Regions from separate parts of the Homo sapiens genome. Here region 2 is linked to region 1. Evidence: fine-mapped expression QTL. A gene starts in region 1. The other region holds a variant in brackets. All regions are shown on one strand. Distances are between the middles of the regions.

Region 1 (8,701 bases):
GTGCTGTGCTGTGCCTTTCCCCTGGGGGAGCGCCGCAAGGGGCTGGAGAGAGACCCTTGCAGAGCAATGCAGGGGCAAAGCCTCCTCCCCACTCCCCCATTCCCCACCAACAATCCGTCTGCCTGGCACAGGCACCAGGTATCCCCGGGGGGTGGTACTGCCTCCTGACCTTGGACCCCGCCCGCCGTGCCTACCCTGCTTGCTCCTGGGTGAGGAAGGGGCTTCTCTGCAGGGTCCTGGGTGAGGGGTGGGCCCTGAGGTTCAGCAGTGCCCCCAGCCTCCGCGTCGGGGTTTTGTGACCGCAGGCTGGCGTGGGTGGAGCTGCACGGACAACAGCACAGCCCAGACGGTGGCCCAGCAGAGGGCGGCCACACTGCTGCTCACGCTCAGCAACCTCATGTTCCTGGCCCCCATCGCCGTCTCAGTGCGGCGATTCTTCCTGGTGGAGGCCTCCGTCTACGCCTACACCATGTTCTTCTCCACGGTAGGCTGGCCCCTCCTGCAGGGATGTGGGGTGGGAGGGCAGGACCGCGCTCATGGAGCCTCCCCACAGTTCTACCACGCCTGCGACCAGCCCGGGGAGGCGGTGCTGTGCATCCTCAGCTACGACACGCTGCAGTACTGCGACTTCTTGGGCTCCGGGGCGGCCATCTGGGTCACCATCCTGTGCATGGCACGGCTCAAGACAGTCCTGAAATACGTGAGTGGCCCTCGACGTGGGGTGTGGGCTCCGGGGGAGCAGGGCCCCCAAGTGCAGCCTGCGAAAGGCAGTACCGTGGGAGAGGCCGGACCTGGCGTTGGGCACGGCCCCTGGAAACCTCACATCTCGGCCGAGCATGGTGGCTCACACCTGTAATCCCTAGGCCGAGCATGGTGGCTCACACCTGTAATGCCTTGGCCGAGCATGGTGGCTCACACCTGTAATCCCAACACTTGCAGGAGGATCCCATGAGGCCAGGGGTTCAAGAGCAGCCTGGGCTGTACAAAAAATCGAAAAGTTAGCCGAGCGTAGTGGTACATGCCTGTGGTCCCAGCCACTCGGGAGACTAAGGTGGGAGGATCGCTTGATCCCAGGCATTGGAGGCGTTGGAGTGAGCCGAGGTCACAGCACTGCACTCCAGCCTGGGTGACAAAAGAAAAGAAAAGAAACCTCATGTCTTCTGTGATGCCACACGGAGATGCGGGTCTGAGACCCCGCAGGCAGTTGTGAGGGGGCAGTGCCAGCTGTTTGGAGGATGCCAGGAAGGAAGGTGGTAGGCAGGGGAGGCCAGGCCCCCTGCCTTCGAGAAGCCCCCACCCATGCTCCCTGGGTCCTTGGGGCCAATGATGCTTTGGGGACTCTCTGTGGCAGCTGGCCCTGGCAAGGGGAGACTCATGCCCTGGGCTTGTGAGCTGCATGCTCTGCCCTCCCATCTGCTCTGGGAACTGCAGGCTGGGTACTGCCCCAAGGGGGTGCCCATGGGAGCCCCACAGCCAGGGCAGAGGGGAGGCTGGGAAGCACCAGGGTCCTGCAGGGCTGAGTGCGGGGCCTGAACCTGCAGATAGGCAGAGAACTGTAGGCTGTGGGCAGAGGTGTCTGATGGAGACTGGGGGGTGGGAGCCCCTCCCCATGGAACAGTGGGTGGGAGACTGAAGCCACCCTGATGGGGGACTTCTAGAAACCCAGTGGTACAGGGGGCTAGTGAGTGTGTGGGTGCAGAGCGGCCATATGCGTCTGTCCAGTTTGTGTGAGCATCGTCTAATCCCCCAGAGATGCCTGCCTGGCCACATTCACCTGTGGATGCAATACAGAAGCTGAAGGAGGGGCATGTCCCTGCCGGCTGGCAGAGCTAGTCAGAGGCTGGCAGAGCTGGTCTGAGGGTGGCAGCAGCTCCGAGGGGGCAGGCAGAGGTGCTGTGGGGCCGTGGGGTACGCGTGCTCCTGCTGGGCCTTGAGCCCTCAGAGACGTCCCTGCAGTCATCCCTGTGTCTTGCGCAGGTGCTGTTTCTTCTGGGTACACTGGTCATCGCCATGTCCTTGCAGCTGGACCGCAGGGGCATGTGGAACATGCTGGGGCCCTGCCTCTTTGCCTTCGTGATCATGGCCTCCATGTGGGTAAGGAGCCGGGCTGGCTGGCACTGCTGCCCAGGTGCTCGGAGAAGAGAGCCTGGCCCCTTGCTCTAGCCACGTTCCTGGTCCTGCTCCAACCAGTGAATGCCCATATCTGCTGGGGGTTGCCATGGCACCCACAGAGGCCCAGCATGGCTGTGTCCCTGAGGCCTGGGCCTGAGGACCAGTGGCCTTGAGCCCCCTCGAAGCAGCCCACCCTTGTCGTTCTGCTGCCCAGACCTGGGCAGGCCCCCAGTAACCACCGTATCTGGGCCCTGGGAGCTGCAGCCGCGGCCCCACCTGCACTGATACCTGCGTGGCTGTTTTCTCCAGGCTTACCGCTGCGGGCACCGGCGCCAGTGCTACCCCACCTCGTGGCAGCGCTGGGCCTTCTACCTCCTGCCCGGCGTCTCTATGGCCTCTGTGGGCATCGCCATCTACACCTCCATGATGACTAGCGACAACTACTACTACACCCACAGCATCTGGCACATCCTGCTGGCCGGGAGCGCAGCCTTGCTGCTGCCGCCACCTGACCAGCCCGCCGAGCCCTGGGCCTGCTCGCAGAAATTCCCCTGCCACTATCAGATCTGCAAGAACGATCGGGAGGAACTGTACGCAGTGACGTGACACTGGCCTGGGGACAGCTGCTGCTCTGATGACCTCTTCAGCCAGGAGCTGTATCGAGGGGGAGGCGCCTGGTCCAGCCCTGGACAGATTGATTTCCAGCTGAATAAATTGGCCTAGATACCCTCTTACTTCCTCCTACTGAGGAGAGGGCCACCCCTCCCTCACACGCACCTCTCCTCGCCAGCTGCCTGCTCGCTGCTGAGATCCCTCTGCAGATCCCAGCTGCTGTCTGCAGTGGCCCCTGGGGCCTGGGCTTGGTTACTTGGAGACCACAGGTGCCTGTGCGAGGGTGGGGCTGTGTGCTCTGCTGGCCTGTGGGTGGCTAGAGATGGGGAGAAGGACTCCCTATGGTCCTGTTCCCTGGCGAGGCTGTGGTGAGACCCATGGCGCCCAGGAGCCCTGAGCCCACCACTGGGGCCGGGAGCTGTGGACTCCGAGACCCCTGCTCCTGGCCCCTGTGTGGCCCTGATGCCAGCCTGCCTGGGGCATGGAGGATCCCCCTCTGCTGCTGTGGTCACCATAGGGACGGGAGACGGAGGTTTCCCCCAGAGCTGATGGGCACTGGGGATGCAGGCTCCCGCCCCGCCCCTCCCTTTTTCCTGGCTCTGGAGCCTTGGGTCCCTGAGAAGAGCTTCCTTGGACTGGGGTGCTCTGCTGCTCTGGGGGTTTGGCCCAGAAGGAACCCCTACCCAGCCCTGTCCACCCACCCCAGCGTTCCTGGGCCCCCCTCTGGGAGCTTCCTCTTGGTCCCAGGAGCTGCGGTGGTGTCTGCCCCCTGCACTGGGCTCTGTGCCCTGTGGGTGTTCAGGAGACTGGACTGTCTCTGCTCCTCATGCAAACCTTGTGGGGGAAGCAATGACCAGGAGCAGCACCTGGCCCCTCCCTGAGGCCTGTGAGTGTCTCGGATCCGCCCTGGAGAAGTGAGTGGCTGAGACCCGGGTGGGGCCCTCCTACCCTTGGCTCTGGGGGCTTCCCTTCTGGGTCTTGTCCGGGATATGGCCTTCCTGAAGGTCTTACCTCCCCCAGCCGCCCTGCACTTGACCACCAAAGCAATCTCTAAGCTTATAAAGGAGAAACATATATATATGGGGTTTTTTGGAGTAAAGGAAAATTCTAAGATATTAAGACATATTTTTATGTAGATCTGATCTATCTGTGTTTGGTGAATTTAATATTCTACATTGATTTTTCAAACTAAACGAGTTTTTACATTTTTTCTGTGCTCCTTCCCGGGTAGGGTAAGTGGGGCCCGGGAGAACAAGCACCGCCCCGCCCGTGCCGCCCTTCGCGGAAACGCCGGGGCCGCACGTAGCTAACGGTGCCTTGAGCTGCTGCTGCTGTATGTGGGGTGTTTTTTACGGTCCCTAAAGACGGAAGCGGGGCGGGACGAGGGGGTAGACGGATGGCTTTTACAGCCAGTCAGCGGTGGGAGGAGGGCCAGGCGCGGCAGATCGGCTTCCGGTTCCGGTGGGCTCTGAACCCTGAAAGGTGGGCGCGGGCAGGTGGGGTGTGGGGGGGCGCCGGGGCAGAAGGGGAGGGGCAGGTGGGTGCGGGACAGGGGCCGGAGTGAGAACCGGGGGCCGGGGTAGGGGGTAGCGGGTGAGAGCCGGGGGCCGGGGTAGCGGGTGAGAGCCGGGGGCCGGGGTAGCGGGTGAGAGCCGGGGGCCGGGGTAGCGGGTGAGAGTCGGGGGCCGGGGTAGGGGGTGAGTGCCGGGGGCCTGGCCAGGCTGCGACTGACTGCGAGCCCCCACCTCCCGCCAGGCTCGCGATGCCTCTACACAAGTATCCCGTGTGGCTCTGGAAGCGGCTGCAGCTGCGGGAGGGCATCTGTTCCCGCCTGCCCGGCCACTACCTGCGCTCCCTGGAGGAGGAGCGGACGCCCACTCCCGTGCACTATAGGCCTCATGGGGCCAAGTTCAAGATCAACCCCAAGAACGGGCAGCGGGAGCGTGTGGAGGACGTGCCCATTCCCATCTACTTTCCCCCCGAATCCCAGCGGGGGTTGTGGGGCGGCGAGGGCTGGATCCTGGGCCAAATATATGCCAACAACGACAAGGTGGGTCCGCAGGCGGCCTTCAGGGGCTCCTCTCAGGGCTTGGCTGTGCCGGCTCTGTGCCGGACGCCCGGGGTACCTGGAGAGACCTGGGTGGGCCCTGGGGATTACAGCCTGGAGGCGACACATCTCCGGCAAAGGAGCACGCTGAGTGAAGAACCGCAGTTCTGGCAAACAGGACTGATAAAGTAGGGGTGAGGTGGGGTGACTCAGGCCGGGGGAGCAACCAGAGGCCGTGGGGAGTCGGGGTAAAGTTAGGATGGGGAGGAGGCCTGTGTGATGAGCAGAGCAGGTGGGAGAGGCGAGCAGAGCAGGTGGGGGAGGCGAGCAGAGCTTCGAGGCTGCTTGTGGTGGACTTCCTGGCGGGACTGCTGAAGCCTGTGGGGAGACTTGTGTCACCTCCAGGTTGGAATGTGACAACCTGTAAACTGTGGGGTCGCACATGTTTCTGAAACACATGCAGCAACCATGTGACCAGGGCGGGAACGCCCAGCTTGTTGGGGAGCAGCTGACTTCTGGGTACACAGTCAGGACCCGGGTCGGGCTGGGGCGGCACTGGGCTGGGGGCCGGCCCAGTTAGCTCTAGGTCCCCAGTCTGACAGCAGTGGTTCTGTGATGGAGCCTCCGGGGGGGAGGTGAGGGCAGTTGCCTGGGCCCCCCTTGGTATGTAAGAGAAAGCAGCAGTACTCATGGAGGCTCTGTTGCACCCTCAGCTCTCCAAGAGGCTGAAGAAAGTGTGGAAGCCACAGCTGTTTGAGCGAGAGTTCTACAGTGAGATCCTGGACAAGAAGTTCACAGTGACTGTGACCATGCGGACCCTGGACCTCATCGATGAGGCTTATGGGCTCGACTTTTACATCCTCAAGGCAAGCGGGGTGGGGCGAGTCAGTGCACACAGGGTCTGGGATGGGCCAGTCAGACTCACGGGAGCCCCAGGTCAGCATCACACCGGGGCACGCTGACATCTGCACAGGAGGGTCACTGGGAAAGCGTGAGTGGGGCCATGCCCCTTTCTGGCCAGCACCAGTGGGGTTTCCTGCCTTCAGGAGAGGCTGTCGCTCTGTGGGTGGCTGACTTGCCCGTGGGGCCTGAGCGAGCACAGCCGCCCCTTTCCCTGCACTTGGACTTGCTTCTGTGCTGATCCCACCCCCCAGGCTGGGGTGCTGAGGCGGCCCCACCCGGGCCTTCTCTGTCCTGTCCTGGGACCACCAGCGGCTAGAGAGGAGCCAGGTGGGTTGGCTGGAAGGGTAGGTGGGGCCCTGCCACCAGCACCTGGCCCCATGTGAGCCTTCTGCCAGACCCCGAAGGAGGACCTGTGCTCCAAGTTTGGGATGGACCTGAAGCGAGGGATGCTGCTGCGGCTTGCCCGGCAGGACCCCCAGCTGCACCCCGAGGACCCCGAGCGGCGGGCAGCCATCTACGACAAGTACAAGGTGAGGGTTTCCGTCCCGCTCCCTACACCTGGGGACTCGTGGCCCGGCCCTGGGCCTCACTGCCCTTTCCATCTCTGCCTGCCTAGGAATTTGCCATCCCAGAGGAGGAGGCAGAGTGGGTGGGCCTCACGCTGGAGGAGGCCATTGAGAAGCAGAGACTTTTGGAGGAGAAGGTGAGTGTGTGAGCACCAGCCGATGCTGCCTGCCCAGAGCCTGGTGTTCAGGGTCTGGGAGTGTGCTGCCTTGGAGAGAGCCTGCACAAGGGGCTGGTGCACTGGGTGGGCTTGGGGAAGAGCTGCTGCTCTGCATTGCCCACCCAGAGGAGCATGGCCCGCTCCCTCCCCTCCAAGTCCCCACCCTGTTCTGTCCCAGGACCCTCAGTAGGAGGAGTGGGTTCCTGCACTGAGGGTTTGCTCGGCCACCAGCATCCCAGGGTCTGGAGCCTGAGGTAGCTGTCAGGACAGGGAGCCCCTGATGGCATGGCAGCTGGCTGCCCCTATTCCCTCTGTTTATCCATGACCACAGGGATGGGACAGGGGTATGTGTGTGCCTCCGGCATCCCCAAGGGAGGGGGTTCCTCATCTCACCGACAGGACTCTGCCCTCCAGGGCCTCTCATGCCCCGGTTCCTCTGGGCGGCAGCTGCTGATCCCATCCCCGTCGGAACTCCAGCTGCCCTGGGCTTCCCTGGCCTCACCATGAGCCCCTCTCTCCTTCAGGACCCTGTACCCCTGTTCAAGATCTATGTGGCGGAGCTGATCCAGCAGCTGCAGCAGCAGGCACTGTCAGAGCCGGCGGTGGTGCAGAAGAGAGCCAGTGGCCAGTGACCACACAGCTCCTCCATGCCTGACCAACAGGCCCAGCTTTCCCTGCCAGGCCCTTTGCACTGAGGACACAGATCCCGGGGAGCTGTGAGGGCCACCGGTGGGCAGTGGGTGGATCCTGGTTTCGTGTGCTGCCCATGCACCTTCCAGCCCGGGGCCAGCTTGGCAGGGATCCCCAGGAGGCCTGGGCCGCCCAGAGGCTCCTCTCAGGCTGGGCCCCGACGTTTGCGGCAGTGTTCCTTGTGCCCGTGGGGCCGGGAGCGAGTAAAGTCTGGGCCAGGCTGTGTGTGTGTATCTTTGCTTTGAGGACTGGTGTTCTCTTTGGGGATCCTGATCCTGTCACCCCTGCCCTTGCTGCCCCTGAGACCTCGGATGAGCCGTGGGCATTGACTCTGGCTGTGCCCGTCCCCCGGTGAGCTGCAGAGAGCGAGGTTCAATTCTGTGTTTTGTGTTTTTTTTTCTTTTCTTTTTTTGAGACGGAGTCTTGCTCAGTCACCCAGGCTGGAGTGCAGTGGCACGATCTGGACTCACTACAACCTCCACCTCCAGAGTTCAAGTGATTGTCCTGTCTCAGCCTCCTGAGTAGCTGGGATTACAGGCACCCCGCTATCATGTATGGCTAATTGTATTTTAGTAGAGAAGGGGTTTCACCATGTTGGCCAGGCTGGGCTTGAACTCCTGACCTCAGGTGACCCACCTGCCTCAACCTGCCAAAGTGTTGGGATTACAGGCGTGAGCCACCTCCCCTGGCCGTATTCTGTGTCTTTCTTTCCTCTGGTAGAGGGTCTGGTGTAGCTGGGGGCATCCAGGGGTGCAGCCGGATGATGCCCATTCCCTCTCCATTGCACATTCCTGCCCTTCTCGAACATTCTTCAGAGCAGGGCAAGGGAGGCTGTGGTCTGGCTCTGCAGGTACTGGAAGGAACCAGGAGGGGCAGGCCCTCAGAGGGCCGTGCTGGTGCAGCTGCCTGAGTCAGGAGCCTCTCCCTGGTCAGCACTGTTGTGGCGAGTGGTAGAGGAGGTGGGGGCGACACGAACTTGGGGACCTGCGACCTTGGTGTCCCCTCCTGCTACCTCCACCTGACCTGCAGGGTGGAGGTTTGGCCAGCGGGAAGCCGGGCTGTGCACCCTAAGGCATTTCCCGCCCTGAGGTTTTGGGGGTACCTGACCCTCTCCCCCAACCCTTACCTGGAAATCCTGATCCTCCGGACCCATTCGGTTTTCCCAGGGAGCACAGAGGGAGGGCTCCCCCAGCTGCATGTGCAGAATGACAAGGGGGGGTTTATGTCCCCTGAGCCTAAGCCAGCCCCAGCTGGTGGCAGGATGGGGTGAACTGGAGGCAGCTGCCTGACGTGGGCCTGCTGGCTGATTGAGGGGCCCCTGGCTCCCAAGGGGGCTGTGGCAGAGTCCAGAGGGAGTCTGCAGTTGGCCCTGCTGGACTGCAGGGGAGCACGTGGCTCCCGGGGCCGCAAGGGGTCCCTGGGGTCAGGACCTGCCTGGTTCAGAGCCCTGGGAGGGCCCCCGAGGTCTCTTTCCACACCGGGCACCTCTGCCGACATGTCCTGCTGCTCCCCACACCAGTGCCTTCATGTGATGCCCCTGCTCTGTGAACGACCTTGAAAAAAATTTTAGGCCAGGCACGGTGGCTCACACCTGTAATCCGAGCACTTTGGGA
Region 2 (8,701 bases), 80 kb after region 1:
TTTTTTTTTTGAGACGGAGTCTTGCTCTGTTGCCCAGGCTGGAGTGCAGTGGCCTGATCTCAGCTCACTGCAAGCCTCGCCTCCCGGGTTCATGCCATTCTCCTGCCTCAGCCTCAAGAGCAGCTGGGACTGCAGGCGCCCGCCACCACGCCCGGCTAATTTTTTGTATTTTTTTAGTAGAGGTGGGGTTTCACCGTGTTAGCCAGGACGGTCTCGATCTCTTGACCTCGTGATCCGCCCTCCTCAGCCTCCCAAAGTGCTGGGATTACAGGCGTGAGCCACCGCGCCTGGCCTTTTTTTTTTTTTTTTTTTTTTTTTGAGATGGGGTTTCGCTCCTGTGGCTCAGGCTGGAGTGCAACAGGCCAGTGTCAACGCACTGCAACCTCCACCTCCCAGGTTCAAGTGGTTCTCCTGTCTAACCCACCTGAGTAGCTGGGATTACAGGCACCCACTATTATGCCCAGTTAACTTTTTGTATTTTTGTAGAAACAGGGTTTCACCATGTTGGCCAGGCTGGTCTTGAACTCCTGACCTCAGATGATCCACCCGCCTCGGCCTCCCAGCGTGCTGGGATTACCGCGCCTGGCCATTTTTTTTTTTTTTTTTTTTTTTTGAGATGGAGTCTCACTCTTGCCTAGGCTGGAGTGCAGTGGTGCAATCTCAGCTCACCGCAACCTCTGCCTCCCAGGTTCAAGCGATTCTCCTGCCTCAGCCTCCCGAGTAACTAGAATTACTGGTATCCACCACCACACTTGGGTAATTTTTTGTATTTTTTGAGTAGAGTCATGGTTTTGCCATGTTGGCCAGGCTGTTCTTGAACTCCTGACCTCAGGCGATCCACCCACCTTGGCCTCCCAGAGTATTGGGATTACAGGCAAATGAGGGTTGGTTTTTTGTTGTCTTTTTTATTCCTGAGACTGAGCCTCACTCTGTCACCCAGGCTGGAGTGCGGTGGCGTGATCCCGGCTCACTGTAACCTCCACTTCCCCAGTTCCAGCCATTCTCGGGCCCCAGCCTCCAGAGTAGCAGGGATGACAGGCGCCCAGCTAATTTTGTATATTTAGTAGCGATGAGGTTTCACCATGTTAGGTTGATCTCGAACTCCCGACCTCTGGTGATCTGCCCGCCTCGGCCTCCCGAAATGCTGGGATTACAGGTGTGAGCCACCATGCCTGGCCGGGATGTTTTTATTGTGTGGTCTGTGGAGGACGTCCATGTGGCTTGGTGGCCAGGCCCCAGTGCCCCATCCCATCCTATCCCTCAAGGAGGCTGCCCTTGTGAGATGAGTGTAGCCCCACCAGGCCACCTGGCCAGGGTGTCGGCCACAGTCACAACTTGTTCTCTTGTTCCCCAAGGTCTTCGGGGACGAGGAAGCCACAGCCCCATGAGAACTCCAGACCCTTGTCCCTTGAGCACCCCTGGGCCGGCCCTCAGCTCCGGACCTCCGTGCAGCCCTCCCACCTCTTCATCCAAGACCCCACCATGCCACCCCACCCAGCTCCCAACCCCCTAACCCAGCTGGAGGAGGCGCGCCGACGTCTGGAGGAGGAAGAAAAGAGAGCCAGCCGAGCACCCTCCAAGCAGAGGTACGGCCGCGTCGTGGGGTGGGGTGGGTCTTGGGGGTTACCACAGCACCACTCCTGGGGCTGAAGCTCCCCGAGGCCTGAGGTCTTCAGGGGAAAAACGGCCCTCTGGGTGTCCCCCAGCCATACTGGGCCCTTCCATCCACTGAGAACCACTGAGGGGCCACGTGGCAGGCCACCCTGCGGTGGACGGAGGCTGGGGCTGGAGCTTTCACACACCCGAGGCCGCCGCGCTCATTGCTCTGGAGGCGGGGTCCCTCCTCAACCTGAGCCCAGTCTGCAGGGAGGCTGCAGGGCCCCAGTGTGTGGGGAACGCCGGTCCCCAGCCAGAGGCTGCTCGCTGCTGGGCAGCCTGGGCTTTAGGGCAGAGGTCCTGGAGGCATGGCGGCTGCCTCTTGACAGTTGCGTCCCAGGAGCCCTGAGTGGCTCTGCACGGTCGGAAAGCTACGTGGTTCTGAAAGCCGTGCAGATGTAGAAGTGTCGTCCTGGACGTCCAGCCCACAGCCCTCCTCGCTGTGTCCTCTTGTCATCCTGGATGTCCAGCCCACAGCCCTCCTCACTGTGCCCTTCTCTCATCCGGGACGTCCAGCCCACAGCCCTCCTCACTGCGCCCTCCTTGGTCTTCTGGGCTCCGTAGCCAGACCCTGTTCTCTCCCTAGGGCAGGGAGGCTTCTGTCTGGGCTGCAGGGAGGTCTCCCCTTTGTGTGGGCAGCATTTTCGCTCCAGGCCAGAACCTGGCTTCTCCATTTTCAGCTTGCTCATAAGGCCAGTTTTCTCGGCCATCCTGGGTCATTGGAATTCCCCACAGATCAGTGTCTCTTTGAGGGTCCTGGGAGCCTATAGCTCACCCAGGCCCTGGGGCTGTGGTCACAGAGGCCATGGTTGCCTTCAGAGGTCACCAGCTCCTCCTGTCCACCTTGGGTCACCTGGGGCCTGGGGTCCAGGCCCGCCTCCCGGGCCTCCAGCTTTGGGGCTGTGCCACTCCAGGGAGGCTGTGGCTAGGGGCCTTATTCTGCCGAACCAGCATCAGGGTTCAGACCCTTCCCAGCTGAAAGCCTGTGTGGTCTCAAGTCATTAAAGGTTCCTGAGCTTCTGCCAGGCTGTGAGCCTAATGACAGCTCTGGGGCCAGAAAGGGTCACAGTTACCTCAAACCCAAAGGGTGACCACTTTATGACCAAACATCTGTGACCCTGTGATCGTGTTCGGCCAACAAGGAGCTGGAGCCCCCTGCCATGCAGGAGCCTGGAGTGTGGTGCTCGGAGCCGGGGCGTGTGACTGGGCTGGCAGATGAGCCGTGGTGGGCATCGTGTGCAGCAGGTCCGAGGCCCTGGGCGTGTGTGGGCTCTCCTGCCGGGGCTTCCTGAGCCATCCTTGCTGGGCTGAGCAGGGGTCTCTCAGGTTGCGTCTGCGCTTTCCCCTGGTACCCGTGGCCCCACATGATGGCAGGGGATGCCCGCTGAGCCGTGGGACCACTCCCGCCGTTCTGAGACACGACCCTCCCGCCCGTTTGGCTGCTGGGCTCCAGCATCCCCCCATGGGGAAACCCAGAGTTGCTGGGTTTGTCCGTCCAGGGGATGTGGGTTTTTGCGAGAAGCTGTGGAGACGGAGTGAAGGCCCAGAGGCAGGTTGGGTGCTGGGCCCTGTCAGGATGTCAGAGTAGAAACCACCATCAAGGTCGCCCAGTGTACCCCGGTGGAGGTGTCCACGTGAGAGGAGCTGCTGTGCTGCCCCAGGATGGCCTCAGTTGTGGCGCCGGGGGGCCCTCAGCCTCCCTGAGGTGCAGACCGAGTTGCCACGCACGCCCCAGAGCCAGTGTCCACGCTATCGGTGGGGAATTCATGCCAAGAGACTGAAGGACAGACTCTCGGGACGAGATGTCATCCCACCAGAGGGGATGAGGTGGTGGGATCCCAGCACCCCTGATCGGAAGCTCCCCAAAGTGCGGTCCAGGGAACTCAGGGGGTTGGTGCCGGGATCATGAATGTGGGGCGCGCTGCAGTATCGGGTACCACCAAGGCAGGCCTAGGAGGGGACTCGGTGTCTTGTCTACCCTGCAAACTGGAGCCTGCGCAGGGTGGGTTGTTCGGGCCCTTCACGCTCCGTCCGTCCCTGCGCAGCAGCATTGGTCGAGGCTCCCTCCCCAGGGCTGGTGGCCGCCGGCACAGCCACCTTTGACGCGGGTTGTTCCCTAGGTATGTGCAGGAGGTTATGCGGCGGGGACGCGCCTGCGTCAGGCCAGCGTGCGCGCCGGTGCTGCACGTGGTACCAGCCGTGTCGGACATGGAGCTCTCCGAGACAGAGTACGTGCGTCCTGAGGGTCCTCCCGGTCCTGCCCACCCCAGCCCTGGCGTCCCAAGCCAGGTCCCATCGTAGAGCCGCCGTCCCGGGGCTTGAGCTCGGGTACCACGCTCAGAAGCAGCTGTGGCAGGAGAGGGTCCCGTGGCATCAGACTCGAAGCTGCCCGAGAGCCTTCTCCTGTCTCCATCAAAGGAGACGCTGACTGTCCAGCATGATGACAAGTGACCAAAAGGCCCGGCTGGAGGCCTGGGCACAGCCAGCCCCTGCATCCACACAGGTGTCACGGCCAGGCTTCCTGTGGGGCAGAGACCTGCCTGCGCCTCCACCCGGCTTGGAACGGGCCGGTCCCTGCCAGGCCTGACTTGACCAGGCTCGGGGCTGCAGGTGCTGAGGTGCCCGGGGTGCGTCTGCTTGCAGTGTGGGTCTCAGCCATGCGTGTCTGTCCAGCCCGTGCAGTCAGTGAGTCGGGGCTCTGCTCCCACCTACAATGCTGACTGCTCTGAACCC[G/A]TGAGAAAGGGCTCAGACCATGTGATCCCACATGGGCCGTGTCGACGGCGCCTTTATGTGCTCAAGGTGGCAGGAGGAGGGGGCACACCCCAAAAGGGGCCTTGAGAACAAGGGTCCCCCAGGCCTTGCCAGGCTTGCCCCAGATGCAGGTTTGTTGTGGCCCTCATCGTGTAGGCGGTCTTGGGGCAGCCTTCACCTGTCCCTGGGGCAGCCCCCACGTGTTGGCTCTTCTCTGATGGGCCTGGCTCCAGGAGGCTCCGAGGATGTGGCACTGGGAGGACGTCTAAGAGCGCACGTGGCTGGGGGCCTGGTGTGCAAAGAGGATGGTCACATGGCTCAGGTGGCCATGAGGCCTTCCTGCCCTGGTGTTGGCTCTGGAAGCCTCTGGTGCACCCAGCCAGGAGGAGGCCCAAGGGCTGAACCCCAGTGGGCCAGGGGCAGCTTCTGGAGTCACTTGAAGGACAGGTGGCGGCGGGGTAGCCGAGTGGGGGGTGCGAGAGCAACCAGGCCCCGCCCGTCATCCCGGCACGGCTGTGGAAGCACAGCACCTGTCAGAGGAGGGCCCGGCTCAGCCTGGGCAGGAGACGGTGCCAGCCCTGCCCCCTCTGAAGGGCCTGCTGGCCACCCCCGCCCCAGTCCTCCGACAAACTTCGCTGCGGGGTCAGGCTTATCCAGAAATCGTGCACAGTTCTGTTTGTCCAATCCCTGCCCTTCAGATGTTTTTAAGGTTTGGGGGCCGTAGGTCTTCCTGAGATAGGAGCCCTGCAGCCTGCCCTGCCATCCTAGAGGTGGGAGCTGCAGTGCACCTGGCAGCCAGGCCCTGGCCAGTCGAGGGTGGGGCTGTGAGGCAGCAGGGAGACCTTCGTGCTCCCAGTGAGCGGAGCCGACTCCACTGCTAGCGGACTAGATCCCAGATTGAGATGCTGTGCGGGGGCTGCGGGCCCCAGGTGTTTGAATGGGGTGCTGCTCACCCCTGCAGGCCTGCCCCGCCTTACACTGGCAGCCTGAGGCCAGCAGGAGGGACCCTGTGGGACCTCAGTCCAAAACCAGGTACCACCGCTGCATCTCTTTCCCCAGGACAAGATCGCAGAGGAAGGTGGGCGGCGGGAGTGCCCAGCCGTGTGACAGCATCGTTGTGGCGTACTACTTCTGCGGGGAACCCATCCCCTACCGCACCCTGGTGAGGGGCCGCGCTGTCACCCTGGGCCAGTTCAAGGAGCTGCTGACCAAAAAGGGCAGCTACAGGTGAGTGTGAGGGCTGGGGTGCCCCCTCCCCGCACGAGTATGTGGGTGCCCAACGGTATGAAAAAGAGGGTTTCCAGCCGGGCACAGTGGCTCACGTCCTAATCCTGGCACTTTGGGAGGCTGAGGTGGGCGGATTGCCTCAGCTCAGCAGTTCGAGACCAGCCTGGGCAACATGGTGAAACCCCGTCTCTACTAAAAATACTAAAGAAATTAGCCAGGTGTGCTACTTGGGAGGCTGAGGCAGAATTGCTTGAACTCGGGAGGCAGAGGTTGCAGTGAGCTGAGATCACGCCACTGCTCTCCAGCCTGGGTGACAGAGCGAGACTCTGTCTCTACCCCCGCCCAAAAAAAAAAAAAGAAGAAAAAGGGCTTCCGGCCATTTCAGCTCATGTCCCTCATCTGCAACTAAAGCCACTTCTCCAAGCCCTAGGCTGAGGGTGGCATCAGGCTTTCGGCCCCACAGGACTGAGAGGGTCCAAAGGGACCCCCGTCCAGGGCCCTCATCTTCGGGGTGGGAAAACAGAGGCCAGACCCCTAGACGACGATGGTCTGAACCTTGTGTTAGGCTCCCCTAGGCCGACCTTGTCTCCAGGCTCTGGACTCATGTGCTTTTGCCTGACTGAAAAGCCAAGCCCCCTCCTACCAAGGTTCATTCGCCCTGGGCCACTCAGCCCTGCAGGGCCCTGCGTGCAGCCAGCCTTGGAGGCTCCCGAGTGAGCACTGGGCGGTGAGCAGAGGGGGCCTGACCCCAAGAGCCTGGCAGAGCCTGGCGGGTGGTTCCCACCGTCCACAAGCCACTGTGCAAACACCCCATGACTGCAGATGTGGTGCTGAGGGAGGGCCCCAGTTGGGGTCACCTCCATGACGGGGCTCAGCCCTTGGGAAGCAGACACCCCACACCCGTCCACTTCCCCCCTGCAACTCCTGAGAGGCTGGGGCAGGTACTCCCAGGGGGATGTGGGGTGCTCCCAGCAGGCAGTGAACTCACCCCCCATGGCTGCCCACTTCACCCACATGTGGTCATTGCACTGTTCACTGTTGCCCTGGGAGGGGGCGCACATGCAGTGGGGGCCGTGGGGCATGGACAGGAGGCTCCTCGGGATGGGGTGTGGACACGCCGTCCCCTGCCACAGGCCTCCTTCCCATCTGCGGTGCTGCCTGCTCACTGCCCTCCTCACCTCCGTCCTGCAGATACTACTTCAAGAAAGTGAGCGACGAGTTTGACTGTGGGGTGGTGTTTGAGGAGGTTCGAGAGGACGAGGCCGTCCTGCCCGTCTTTGAGGAGAAGATCATCGGCAAAGTGGAGAAGGTGGACTGATAGGCTGGTGGGCTGGCCGCTGTGCCAGGCGAGGCCCTTGGCGGGCACGGGTGTCACGGCCAGGCAGATGACCTCGTACTCAGGAGCCCGATGGGGAACAGTGTTGGGTGTACCACCCATCCCTGTGGTCTACCCGTGTCTAGAGGCAGGTAGGGGGTCCCTCCAAGTGGTCCACAAGCTTCTGTCCTGCCCCCAAGGAGGCAGCCTGGACCACTCCTCATAGCAATACTTGGAGGGCCCAGCCCAAGTGAGGCAGCCGAGGTCCCTGCTGCCAGCTTCAGGTGACCCCCCCCCATCCCCCGGCACCTCCCTTGGGCACGTGTGCTGGGATCTACTTTCCCTCTGGGATTTGCCCACGTACCCAGGTCTGGGTGGGGCCCAGGCCCGGATGCAGAGGCCTGCAGGGCCTCTGTCAATTGTACGCGCCACCGAGTGCCTTCAACACAGCTTGTCTCTTGCCTGCCACTGTGTGAATCGGCGACGGAGCACTGCACCTGCCTCCAGCCGCCGGCTGTGCAGTCCTGGGTCCTCCTTTCTGAGGGCCCGTGTAAATATGTACATTTCTCAGGCTAGGCCAGCAGGGGCTGCCCGAGTCTGTTTTTCATGCGATGACACTTGTACAATTAATTATCTTTTCAAAGGTACTTGGATAATAATGAAATAAAACTGTTTTTGAACCTGCCCTGGCTGTGGTGTGTCTTCTGCGGGTGGGGCCTGGCCTAGGTCTCCCAGCCTCAGCCCCCGTGGTAAAGGAGGGCACACTGGCCTCCAGCAGGCATGGGGATCACCTGTGACTCAGAGGCTGGCAGGGCTAGAGCAGGAACGTGCTCCACCTTCCTGCCCTGGAGCCCCCAGCTGGGCAGAGCTGCATCAGGCCAGCCTTGCTGAGGGACCAGGCACACAGAGTCCAGAACCAAGCTCACTCTTTATTCACAATGCACAGCTCCCTCTGGTACCCAAGGGGGTGGCTCCTGTCCAGCAGTGATGGCGGGGGTGACACGGGGGCAGCTACAGTTCCTCCTTGGACCCCATAGTGGAGTTGGCCGGTGGCTCCTAGAAAGGGTCACAAGTGCAGCTCGAAGCTCTGCTCCCAGCCTACCCCTGCCCCCGCCCCTGCCAGCCCTGTGTAAAGAGGATTTGTGCAGAGGCCTGGAGCCCTGGCTTAGGGACACCCACCGGGAACGGGGCTGCTGGCTCCTCCGGGGGCTCCTCCGTGGGCAGCACGCCCCCGTTGTCCAGGAACTTGGAGAAAGTCTCCAGGTCCCTGGTGCTTTTGTATTCAATCACCTGAGAAGAGGCAGGGGGATCTGGAGGACACGTGGGGCCCAGCCCCATGCCCAGCAAGATGGCACCCCGGCTTCCTCCCCAGCCACCTGTCCGCCATACCTTCCGACCTGGCCCTGCTGGGAAGTACTTGAGAGTAGGGAAGCCGTGCACAGCGAAGGCATCCAGCTCGTTGGCCGTGGCATCCAGCTCAGCAATGATGATGTCCTCGTGGTCTTGGTACTTCTCAGCCAATGCCTCCCAGGCAGGGGCCATCTCCTTGCAGTGGGTGCACCACGGGGCATCTAGGATGGGAGCCGTTGAGCACAGCCATCTGGGCAGCCCCTGCCCAGCCCACACCACCCCTGCCTCCCTCAACACTCACAGAACTTGACAAACACATTCTTGGTTTCGTCAAAAGCCACCTGCTCAAAATTCTTGCCCACGAGGGTCTTAACTGGCCGCTGATCCCAATCAGGGGGTATC

What was found.
Region 2: its variant is fine-mapped to the expression of MRPL28 in testis (GTEx, PIP above 0.99).

What each region holds. Positions count from the first base shown.
Region 1 is chr16:366,004-374,704 of GRCh38, reverse strand. It overlaps MRPL28 (mitochondrial ribosomal protein L28), which reads left to right and starts at 4,167. Exons shown (of 6, transcript NM_006428.5): 1 at 4,167-4,206; 2 at 4,480-4,774; 3 at 5,485-5,637; 4 at 6,070-6,204; 5 at 6,291-6,377; 6 at 6,923-7,736. The coding sequence starts at 4,487. The coding sequence ends at 7,030. PGAP6 (post-GPI attachment to proteins 6) reads left to right here. Exons shown (of 13, transcript NM_021259.3): 10 at 306-484; 11 at 554-700; 12 at 1,978-2,094; 13 at 2,422-3,917. The coding sequence ends at 2,718. RefSeq lists an enhancer at 1,866-2,437.
Region 2 is chr16:286,373-295,073 of GRCh38, reverse strand. PDIA2 (protein disulfide isomerase family A member 2) reads right to left here. Exons shown (of 11, transcript NM_006849.4): 8 at 8,601-8,701; 9 at 8,339-8,520; 10 at 8,129-8,239; 11 at 7,859-8,005. The coding sequence ends at 7,961. It overlaps AXIN1 (axin 1), which reads left to right. Exons shown (of 11, transcript NM_003502.4): 8 at 1,356-1,586; 9 at 3,777-3,884; 10 at 5,467-5,634; 11 at 6,826-7,634. The coding sequence ends at 6,952. Among named protein-coding and RNA genes, the nearest start is that of PDIA2, 7.6 kb to the right of the region's middle. The variant G/A (reference allele first, on the strand shown) is at 4,390.